3 linked regions of the Homo sapiens genome follow. The protein of the gene in region 1 purifies or fractionates together with the protein of each later gene. This does not show direct contact. Each region holds a gene or a part of one and is shown on either strand. Other genes may lie near its edges.

Evidence for each region.
Region 2: the proteins of TSPAN16 (region 1) and ABCA7 purify together in Homo sapiens (affinity purification with mass spectrometry; one large-scale study listed by BioGRID and IntAct). This does not show direct contact.
Region 3: the proteins of TSPAN16 (region 1) and SERPINE2 purify together in Homo sapiens (affinity purification with mass spectrometry; one large-scale study listed by BioGRID and IntAct). This does not show direct contact.

The regions. Positions count from the first base shown.
Region 1 is NC_000019.10:11,294,649-11,298,397, forward strand, and holds the start of TSPAN16 (tetraspanin-16), read left to right. Parts: upstream 1-1,511; 5' UTR 1,512-1,649; coding exon 1,650-1,718; intron 1,719-1,854; exon of another isoform or gene 1,855-1,948; intron 1,949-3,493; coding exon 3,494-3,691; intron 3,692-3,749.
Region 2 is NC_000019.10:1,057,072-1,060,720, reverse strand, and holds part of ABCA7 (phospholipid-transporting ATPase ABCA7), read right to left. Parts: coding exon 3,637-3,649; intron 3,408-3,636; coding exon 3,292-3,407; intron 2,856-3,291; coding exon of another isoform or gene 2,807-2,855; coding exon 2,662-2,806; intron 2,576-2,661; coding exon 2,452-2,575; intron 2,104-2,451; coding exon 1,974-2,103; intron 1,902-1,973; coding exon 1,781-1,901; intron 1,699-1,780; coding exon 1,636-1,698; intron 1-1,635. UniProt on the Homo sapiens protein: Catalyzes the translocation of specific phospholipids from the cytoplasmic to the extracellular/lumenal leaflet of membrane coupled to the hydrolysis of ATP. Transports preferentially phosphatidylserine over phosphatidylcholine.
Region 3 is NC_000002.12:224,001,176-224,004,824, reverse strand, and holds part of SERPINE2 (glia-derived nexin isoform b precursor), read left to right. Parts: intron 1-2,902; coding exon of another isoform or gene 2,903-2,924; coding exon 2,925-3,183; intron 3,184-3,649. UniProt on the Homo sapiens protein: Serine protease inhibitor with activity toward thrombin, trypsin, and urokinase. Promotes neurite extension by inhibiting thrombin. Binds heparin.

The sequences.
Region 1 (3,749 bases):
CCCACCTCGGCCTCCCAAAGTGCTGGGATTACTGGCGTGAGCCACCGCGCCTGGCTTCAAATGACCTCTTAAATAAAGGTGTGGAAGGACACACTCCTGGCTGTGAACAGCACCCGTGGTCCAGGAGGAGACAGCACTCCTCTGTGAACATCTTGCTTAGTTCTACATGTTCCAAGAAGCAGGCGATTTGACAGACATTCATTAAATTAATTAAAGTGTAAGGTATTTTCTCCCATTTGAACCATCCGCCTTCCCCCAATCCATGCAGGACCTGGACCCAGACACACCCCAGCCCAGGGCTGGACAGAGAGGGGATCGGGGTGGGGCAATGTGAAGCTGCTATGGTTAGGGTGGGGAGGTATGGGGGCAAAGTGGGCTACAGACTGCAGGATCTAGGCCTGGAGGTCTTCAGTGCTGACATACAGAAGGTTTTTGGTCCTGAAATGCTAACTACATCTATCACCATGGAGAAAAGCCCAATGACCTGCTACTTGGGAGGCTAAGGTGGGAGGATCACTTGAGCCAGGGAGGTCGTGGCTGCAGTAAGCCATGATCACACCACTGCACTCCAGCCTGGGCAATGGAGCAAGATCCTGTCTCAAAAGAAAAAAACCCAGTGACCAATGGCTCACAGTTCCAGGACTCTCTGCCTTACAGGTTCCTGCCCTCATGTTACTCTTGGGGCTTCAAAGCCTGGTCTTGCTTCCTGTGTGGCCTCAGGCAGTTCCCTTGGCCTCTCTGAGCCCTGTATGAAGGATGGGCCAAGTATGGGCTTGGGCTTGGGAGGCCCGGTGGCTTGTAGCTAGATTTCTGCATCACAGAGCCTCTGGATCCATTCATTCATTCTCCGCGGGTTTCTTAAGTACTGCAGTGCCAGGCTTTGGGGACACAGCTGTTTTTGTTTTTGTTTTGTTTTGTTTGAGACAGAGTCTCACTCCGTCAACCAGGCTGGAGTGGAATGGCACGACCTCAGATCACTGCAACCTCCACCTCCTGGGTTCAAGTGATTCTCCTGCCCCAGCCTCCCAAGTAGCTGGGATTATAGGCGTGTGCCACCACACCCAGGTAATTTTTGTATTGTTTGTATTGTTAGTAGGTCTCAAACTCCTGACCTCAGGTGATTCGCCCGTCTCCGCCTCCCAACATGCTTTGACTACAGGTGTGAGCCACTGCGCCTGGCAGGGGTCACAGCTGTTAATAGGACAGCCCAAGTTCCCCCCTCCCCCGCTTGGATCCCCCAGTCTACTAGGAGATGTCAACTGTGCAAGTGGTTAGCTCTGGGCACTATGCCCACAGGGTCCTGGTGGCATCTGGAGGGTACCAGGGTAGCATACCATGCCTGTTCTCTTTCCCTGCTGTGACCTGTTTGAAGGATGAGGAGCCAACAGGGGGCAGTTTGGGGCACCTGATTTCCCTGGACCATGAGCCTTGCTCCAGAACCCAATTGTGATGTGATAAAAGGCTTATGACCAGGGCAGGGGGCAGCTGCTGGGCCGCCTTGGACAACCATCAGGCAGCCAGGACACAGAGGGGCAGAGCAAGTCAGCATTGGCGCCCCTTCCTCAGATCCCTATCATCTTGGGAAACAGTAGCCCAGAGGTTCAGGAAGATGTTAACTTAAATGTTCAGGGTGCCCCAGTCTGTTCAGCATGGCTGAAATCCACACTCCGTATTCTTCCTTGAAGAAACTGTTATCTTTACTCAATGGCTTCGTGGCTGTAAGTATGTCACAATCCAGGCCCCTGGTTTGTTGCAGCCCTTCCTCCACAGTCAGCTCCCTGAAAGACAGAAATAAGTTGATCCAAATTGGCATCGAGATCTGTGGTTCCCTGGAGAAGCAGGAGGGATGTAGGGCAGACGGAGGAGGAGGAGCAGGGAGCGTGGGGACCTCCATCAACCGAGAGCTGGTGAAATCCAGCACAGATGAGTGTGATCTGGGGGAGCCCAGGTGGGTGATGGAAGAGCTTGGCTCTAAGTCAAATCCTGTAGCCGACCAAGTTGTTTGGGAAGGCCAGGAGAAAGGGTTATTTTCTTGATCTTTTAAATTTGTCACATTTTTTTCCTTACCGTAAAAGTAACCCGAAATGTACATTGCTAAGGAATTGTCAGGCCGGGGGCGCTGGCTCATGCCTGTAATCCCAACGCTTTGGGAGGCCAAGGCGGGTGGATCACGAGGTCAGGAGTTCAAGACCAGCCTTGGTCAATATGGGGAAACCCCATCTCTACTAAAAATACAAAAAAATTAGATGGGCGTGGTGGCACGTGCCTATAATCCCAGCTACTCAGGAGGCTGAGGCATGTGAATTGCTTGAACCTGGGCGGCAGAGGTTGGCAGTGAGCCGAGATTGTGTCACTGCACTCCAGCCTGGGCAACATAGCGAGACTCTGTCTCAATAAAAAAATAAAAGAATAAAAACATAAAAAGAAGTAATTGTCTTCATTGTAGCATAGTCTAAGGAAAAGCTGCCAGGAAAGAGAAGGAAATGAAATATCACTCCTCCTCTTCACTTGTAACATTTTAAAGAGAATTAAGGCCGGCTGTGGTGACTCATGCCTGTAATCCCAGCACTTTGGGAGGCCGAGGTGGGCAGATCCATTGAGCCAGGAGCTCGAGACCAGCTATAGTGAGATCCCCATCTCTATTTAAAAAATAATAATACAAAATAAAGTGTTATTGGAACATGGCCGTGCTCACTTATTTGGAGATTGTGAACAGCTGCTTTTGGGCTACACCAATAGAACTGCGTAGTTTCAACAGACACCTTAAGTCCTGCAGAGGCCACAACATCTGGGTTTTTCAGAAAAAAAAAATTGCTAATCCCTGTCCTATGACATTATTTTATTTTATTTTATTTTATTTTATTTTGAGACGGAGTCTTGCTCTGTCACCCAGGCTGGAGTGCAGTGGCATGATCTCAGCTCACTGCAACCTCCACCTCCCAGGTTTAAGCGATTCTTCTGCCTCAGCCTCCTGAGTAGCTGGGATTACAGGTGCCCACCACCACGCCCGGCCAATTTTTGTATTTTTAGTAGAGACAGGGTTTCGCCATGTTGGCCAGGCTGGTCTCGAACTCCTGACCTCAGGTGATCCACCTGCTTCGGCCTCCCAAAGTGCTGGGATTACAGGTGTGAGCCACTGTGGCTGGCCTATTTTATTTTTTGAGACAAGGTCTTGATCTGTCATCCAGGCTGGAGTACAGTGGCACAGTCATAGCTCACTGCAGTCTCAACCTCATGAGCTAAAGTGATCCTCCCACTGCAGACACCTGAGTAGCTGAGACTACAGGCACGCACTACTACTGGCTATTTTTTTTTTGTTGGGGAGAGGGTACAGATGAGGTCTTACCAAGCTGGTCTTGAACTCCTGGGCTCAAGTCTTGGCCTTGGCCTCCCAAAGTGCTGGGATTACAGGCATGAGCCACCGCACTCACCCAGTTCTATTTGTATACAACTAACAGATTACTTTTCTTCCTTTCTGGTTTCTGTTCTAAAGGTGTCTGGCATCATCCTAGTTGGCCTGGGCATTGGTGGTAAATGTGGAGGGGCCTCTCTGACGAATGTCCTCGGGCTGTCCTCCGCATACCTCCTTCACGTTGGCAACCTGTGCCTGGTGATGGGATGCATCACGGTACTGCTTGGCTGTGCCGGGTGGTATGGAGCGACTAAAGAGAGCAGAGGCACGCTCTTGTTTGTAAGTTGGATCTGCACACAGACCCCAGAACTGCCTCCCCACACACACAAATCTTTTA
Region 2 (3,649 bases), about 10 Mb from region 1:
TTGTGAAACCCCATCTCTACTAAAAATACAAAAATTAGCCGGTTGTGGTGGCGGGCGCCTGTAATCCCAGCTACTCAGGAGGCTGAGGCAGGAGAATCGCCTGAACCTGGGAGGCAGAGGTTGCAGTGAGCCGAGATCGTGACACTGCACTCCAGCCTGGGTGGCAGAGCGAGACTTTGTCTCAAAAAAAAAAAAAAAGAAAAAAACAAAGGCCGGGCATGGTGGCTCACACATGTGATCCCAGAACTTTCGGAGGCCAAGGTGGGTGGATCATTTGAGGTCAGGAGTGCAAGACCAGCCTGGCCAACATGGTGAAACCCCGTCTCTACTAAAAATACAAAATCAGCTGGGCATGGCGGCATGTGCCTGTGGTCCCAGCTACTCGGGAGGCTGAGGCTGGAGAATCGCTTGAACCTGGGAGGCGGAGGTTACCGTGAGCCAAGATTACACCATTGCACACCAAGCTGGGTGACAGTGAGACTCCATCTCAAAAGAAAAAAAAAGAAAAAAAAATATATATATATACTGCAATGTGTGCTAACAAACAGCACTTGTTTGCAGATGTGTACCAGCCCTAGTAGGTGGCCAATAAGTGGCACACAGCAAATACATTTGTATATAGTAGGTGCTTGAATGTGAACTGGTACAAAGCAGGTGCCTGATAAATGCTGGCTGTGAGCAAGTGCTTGATGTAGATGTGTATACAATAGGGGTCCAATAAATTCTATTGGTATTTGATAAACGTTGATGGACACAAAAGTATTCAGTACACCTCTTTAGTGAGCACAGTGTGTGTTTAACAGAGGTAAGCATGCAGTAGGTGCTTAATGAGGTTTTGTTGGCTCAAGATAAATGCACAGGCCAGACGCAGTGGCTCACGCCTGTAATCCCAGCACTTTGGGAGGCTGAGGCGGGTGGATCATGAGGTCAGGAGATCGAGACCATCCTGGCTAATATGGTGAAGCCCTGTCTCTACTAAAAATACAAAAATTAGCCAGGCGTGATGGCAGGCGCCTGCAGTCCCAGCTACCTGGGAGGCTGAGGCAGGAAAATGGTGTGAACCCGGGAGGTGGAGCTTGTAGTGAGCCGAGATCTCACCACTGCACTCCAGCCTGGGCGACAGAGTGAGACTCCGTCTCTAAAAAAAGATAAAATAGGGCAGGTGTGGTGGCTCACGCTTGTAATCCCAGCACTCTGGGAGGCTGAGGCGGGTGGATCACGAGGTCAGGAGATGGAGACCATCCTGGCTAACACGGTGAAACCCCGTCTCTGCTAAAAATACAAAAAAATTAGCCGGGCGTGGTGGTGGGCGCCTGCAGTCCCAGCTACTCGGGAGGCTGAGGCAGGAGAATGGCATGAACCCGGGAGGTGGAGCTTGCAGTGAGCTGAGATCCCACCACTGCACTCCAGCCTGGGAGACAGAGTGAGACTCCATCTCAAATAAATAAATAAATAAATAAATAAATAAATAATAATATAATAAAATAAAAATAGGAGCACAAATATTGGCATACAGTAGGTGCCCAATAAAAGGTGGTGGATACACAGTAGGTGTTCAGTAAAGGATGATGGGCAGGGCATGCAGTAGGGCAGCCACTCACTGTCCCTGCACCTGGCCTCCACCCCTGGACTCACCTCACCAGGGGGAATCCCCAGGCACAAGCGGTCAACAGCTGGCATCCTCTGCCCACGGTATACCTGGGAGAGTGCAGGTCTTTCAGAAAGGTGAGTGGGCCAGTGGGAGCACCCCCCACCCAGCAGTCGACCTGACCACACCTACCTTGGTCAAGTTCCTCAGCACCAACACATCCCCCTGGGTGGCTCCTTGGACCACCCGCTCCCGTTCACGGGCTACATCCTCGTCCTCCTCTCCCAGGAGTGGCAGAGACCTCACCCTGGGCCTGGGGACAGAATATCTGTGGGCTTAAAGTAGGTCCTTGGCCCCTGCCACCCTCTCCATAGACCTCACTAACTGTGGCAGGAGTTGGCTTCGGTGCTGCAGCAGTAGTGTGAAGAGAAGGAAGAGGGGCCCCTGTATCACCATGGCCAAGAGGTTCTTGCCGACCACCTCCCAGCGCAGGGGTGACTGGAACTGCCTGTCTCCTGTGGATATAGAAAGGAGGGACTGGGTCCATGAGAGTCTTGGTTTCTGGCCCTTTCTCCATCCATGTCACTCTGGATTCTTAAGGGAAAGGAACACAAATTGGATAGGCCACTCAGCTGGAGTCTAATTGGCATAGAAAACAGAAGAGGCCTCTTGTGATGTAATCTAAGAATTAGCTTTTTATGGCTGCTTTCTTGTACCTCCAACTTGGCCCAACCTTAGGGCCACCTAAGAACCCTGGCTGTCTCCCTGGGGGGCTGTTTTTCTCCACTCTGTATAATTAACTCTAGGTCTCCAAGGGTGCTAGCTATCTGTAGCCATGGCCCCACCTGACAGGAAGTTCTCACCCAAGCGCTCAAAGGCATCAGCCATGGCCTGGTTCCGCACCATGTCAATGAGCCCCCGGCCCAAGCAGAAGTGGGGGAAGATAAGGAAGACCTGTTTCAAGATCCGGCTCACCTCCTGCAGCTTCTGCTCAAGGGTGGGAGACGGATGTTGGTCAGGGGCTGAGTCCAACGACCCAACCCAGCCCAAGCCCCAGCCTCGTGGTGCCCCACCTGATCAGAGAAGAGCTCAAGCACAAAGGTGGCCATGCTTCCATTGATGCCAATAAAGAGGTTTATGCAGGTGAGCACCACATAGGCTGTGCTGGGCACGGAGAAGAAGAAGGAGGCTGGGTACATGAGCGGTGTGATCGACCAGCTGAAGGGACAATAGGAGTCACTGGAGTAACCACTCAGACTGAGAAGCCCTGAGAGGAATAAAAATCTCCATTCCCATCTTCTCTGCCTTAGACCTTGACATTTTCACCCAAAGCACATTTCTGTTTTTTTTTTTTTCTTTCTCTCTTTCTCTTTCTCTCTCTTTCTTTCTTTTTTAGAGGTGGGTCTCTCTATGTTTCCCAGGCTGGTCTCAAACTCCTGGCCACAAGCAGTCCTCCTGCCTCGGCCTCCCAAAGTACTGGAATTACAGGCATGGGCTGCCTTAGAACTCTACTAATATGAGTCAGGATAAGATGAGCTTTTAAGGCCACCTTGGCACACCACTGAATTGGATCACACACGGCATCACCTCAGACCTCCATATCCTCTCCTTGGGAGTCACTGCAGAGTTCTATCTCAGCAGCATTAATGTGGAAGGCAGTAAGGGGTCAGTAAGAATAGGCCCTGAGGGACTGGGGGCCTCACCCATACAGTAGTAGCAACAGCAGGAGAGCAGGCAGGTTGGCAGGGGCCACATATGCCCTCTGCTGGAAGGCCAGAAAGATGAGCACCACGATGCATGCTGGCACCAAGTAGTTACACTGCATTGGAGATGGCAGTTACCTTTATCAGCCTAAAGAGGTGGGCACTGCCACCCTCAGCCCTGTTCCCACCCTGACCTCCTTGCTTTTTGAGTAGGAAGGCACAAAGTCTCCCACAATCCTCAAGACTTTACCCAGGCCATCTTGGACAAGCCCCTGCCTACAAGGGGCCAGACAGGGCAGTGGCAAGCAGTGGCTGGGCCCCCACCCGTCCAAGCAGCCCCCGCACCATGTCCCAGAGA
Region 3 (3,649 bases), on another chromosome or scaffold:
CAGAATAGACTATAATGCAAGAGACAACAATTGAGATGGATGAAGTTGGTCACTGCATTTGGCCATTTGTAAGAAAGATTGTACACAATGTTTTATACTTATGATGACTTTGTGCTATATTAAATTTTAAAGAGGATATTTATTGCTCAAAAGAAAGAAAAGGCAAGAGGGAGGAAGGAAGGGGAGAACACAGTTTCTAGTTTTTAGATGGAATGAATAAAGCTTCCACGGTCATGATTTGGACGCTCTCCAAAGTCCAGTAGGCTCCAGGAAACTCCAGGGATTGTCGTGGCATTAGAGCCAGTCCTAGGTGCCAAAGTCAAAATAGGCCACGCTGGCCCGTTGAGCCCAAGCGGGAGCAGCGTATGTAGGTCACTTACATGTTTTGAATTTAGACGGGCTGAGTTGATACAATTGTTTTACAATGAAGCTCTGGAGAAACACGGAACATTCTAAATCTTTAGAAAAGCGCTTGTTTCACAACATATAAGAAACTTGCAACATCAGCTGGAAGGATGGCCTCAGTGGTTCACAGTGGGGCCCTCTGTGTCGGGGGGCCAGGCAGGGAGTTCTGCGTGTGCCCACAGTCCTTGCTCGATGTGATGGTGGCTCTTCCCTCAGAGAGTGTCTTGAGCTGACCGTGAGGATCAGGATTAAACACAAGCGTTTTCTTAGCCACACTCCATAAACGCTGTTGTGATGCAGGGAAAGATTAATTAATAAAAATAGGAAGTATTTATGAGCCATCGGATTAATCTCACAAGTGTTTATTGAACATCTCCTACGCCCTAGGGTGGGAAGCACAGAAAGTGTGTAGAAAGGAAGGCAAGGAGACACCAAATACGGGGCCAGTTTTGCCTAACACTGTGGTTGTGCCCATGCTTTCCCCCAGAGCACACAGAGACATGATTTCCCCCTCCCTCCAGGTCACCTGTCTCTTAAAAGGCCCCCTTCTGTTTTATTCTCTGCAGTCACCCCTAACCTCCCACACGTAACAACAGAGTGGGACACATTGGCTCCACGGGAGACTGTGCTTAGCAGGAGCTTGGGCCTCTTGGGGAAGAACTGAATTAGCAACATCACGAATGCTGCTTTTGTTTTACCAGCTGCCACTGTTAAGTTCTTACTTAATGAAAGTATTTGCTTTTCCATAAATACATGTAAATTTCCTACCTCTTACTTGTCATAGCCAGAGAAAGCTCTGTGAGTGGTAATTAAGGAAGGAAGCTTCTTTAAAACAAATCACTGTAGTTGAGAACATCCGTGTAAGCAACACCATCCTCAAAATTGATGAATTTACCAATTGTCCTACCCTATTGTAACTTTAAAGCAGTCACTTAAGTTTATTTTAATTAATAATTCTTTAATTTTAAAAGCAGTGTGCTTATGGTAAAAGAATCAAGCGCTTGTGGTTATAAGATAATCAGAGCAACCCGAGGGATTCACTCCCTTGTTTGAAATCCTCCAGGGGTTTCTTGTAACCCTTGGAGTGAAATCCCAGTGCCTTTCCAGGCTCTACAGGACCTTACCAGATCTGAACTCTCCTTCGGCTTCACCCACCTGTCTCCCTTCTTTACGACCTTGATTTCACATCCACACTGGCCTCTAATACACCAAGTTTATTCCCACGTCAGGGCCTCGGCCCTGCTCTCCCTCTGCCCAGCGTACTGTTTACCCATCAGAGTGTGGCTGGCTCCTTCCCCCATTCAGGTCTCATCACGATGTTCCTGCCATAGAGATGGCTCCCTGATCACCCTATCTAATGACCACCCCCCGCACCCTGCCGGCCCCTCATCTGCTCGCATCCCTGTATTTTATCATTGTGCTCTTTATCCTTTTCTGAAAATGCTTTATTGCTTGCTGGCTTATTTTCTGTCTCCCTTCTAGATTGTAAGCTCAGTGCGGGTGAGAGTCTTGTCCATTCAGTTATGTCATATGCCTAACACTTAGAAAAGGGTCCGACACCCAGTGAACCCTCAGTAAATATTGGCTTAATTGGATGAAGGGCACTTATGAGAATTAAATAATGATTAGGCTGAGCATGGTGGCTCACGCCTGTAATCCCAGCATTTTGGGAGGCCGGATCACTTGAGGCCAGACATTCGAGACCAGCCTGGCAAACACAGTGAAACCTCATCTCTACTAAAAAAAAAAAAAAAAAAAAAATTGCCAGACGAGTTGGCGCACACTTGTAATCCCACATATTCAGGAAGCTGAGACGTGAGAATCACTTGAACCCGGGAGGCGGAGGTTGCAGTGAGCCGAGATTGCGCCACTGCACTCCAGCCTGGGCAGCAGAGTGAGACTGTTTCAAAATAAATAAATAAATAAAAATAAAATAACCGAGAATTAAATAATGATTAGTATAGGACCTGGCACATTGTAAGGACCCAAGAGATGGAAGTTTGCTTCCTTTCCCTCCCCACCTCCCCAGGGTGTGTTTTGAAAACTGATTTAATTACACTGTTCTGTCTTAAATATATTCACATGGCATTCAATTATGCTGAGTACAGTCAAGCATACTAGGTGAGTACAAAATGGCCTCGCAGGCCAGGTACAGTGGCTCACACCTGTAATCCCAGCACTTTGGGAGGCTGAGTCAGGCAGATCACTTGAGGTCAGGAGTTTGAGACCAGCCTGGCCAACATGGTGAAATCCCATCTCTACTAAAAATACAAAAATTAGCCGTGTATGGTGGTACACGCCTGTAATTCCAGCTACTCAGGGGGCTGAGGCAGGAGAATTGCTTGAACCCAGGAGGCGGAGGTTGCAGTGAGCTGAGATGGCACCACTTCACTCCAGCCTGGGTGAAAGAACGAGTCTCTATCTGGGGGAAAAAAAAAAAAAGTAGTAAAGTACCCATTTAAGTATAATTTAAATATTTTTTAACTTACTTTTCCAGGTCGTCCTTGGTGGAAGGAACCATGAACTGGCATCTCCCCCTCTTCCTCTTGGCCTCTGTGACGCTGCCTTCCATCTGCTCCCACTTCAATCCTCTGTCTCTCGAGGAACTAGGCTCCAACACGGGGATCCAGGTTTTCAATCAGATTGTGAAGTCGAGGCCTCATGACAACATCGTGATCTCTCCCCATGGGATTGCGTCGGTCCTGGGGATGCTTCAGCTGGGGGCGGACGGCAGGACCAAGAAGCAGCTCGCCATGGTGATGAGATACGGCGTAAATGGTGCGTGTGCACAATTGCTCACTGGCGGAGCCTTTGCCTGAGAGTCTTGTGACAGGAGGGTTTATGGCTTGGTTTTTGCTGACAACCCCAAGAAGCAGAGCAGCCAGAAGGGGATTTGCTGGTGCCACTTGGGGCTTGGGGTCAGTCTCTTCTAAAGAACAAACACTGTGGTGCTGGCAGTTAGGAGAACTAGACTCTGGTCCCTTTTTTGTACTTTTGGAGCTTGGGGTCTGCCACTAGGTCTCCTTTCCCAGGGCTCCAGCCCTCGTTCCAGCGAGGGGGACACTTCCTGGCTTACCGCCTCCATGGCGCCCAGGGTTGAGTTGCGCTGTGATCGTAGATGTGCTTGTGAAGCCTGTGAGAGGAGCTGGGAAGGGGTGGCTGTGGAGGGCCCAGGGGCCTCGTAGTGATGGAGCCATCCTGGGTCTTGATTGTGGTGGTGGCCACACAAATCTGCACAAATGAT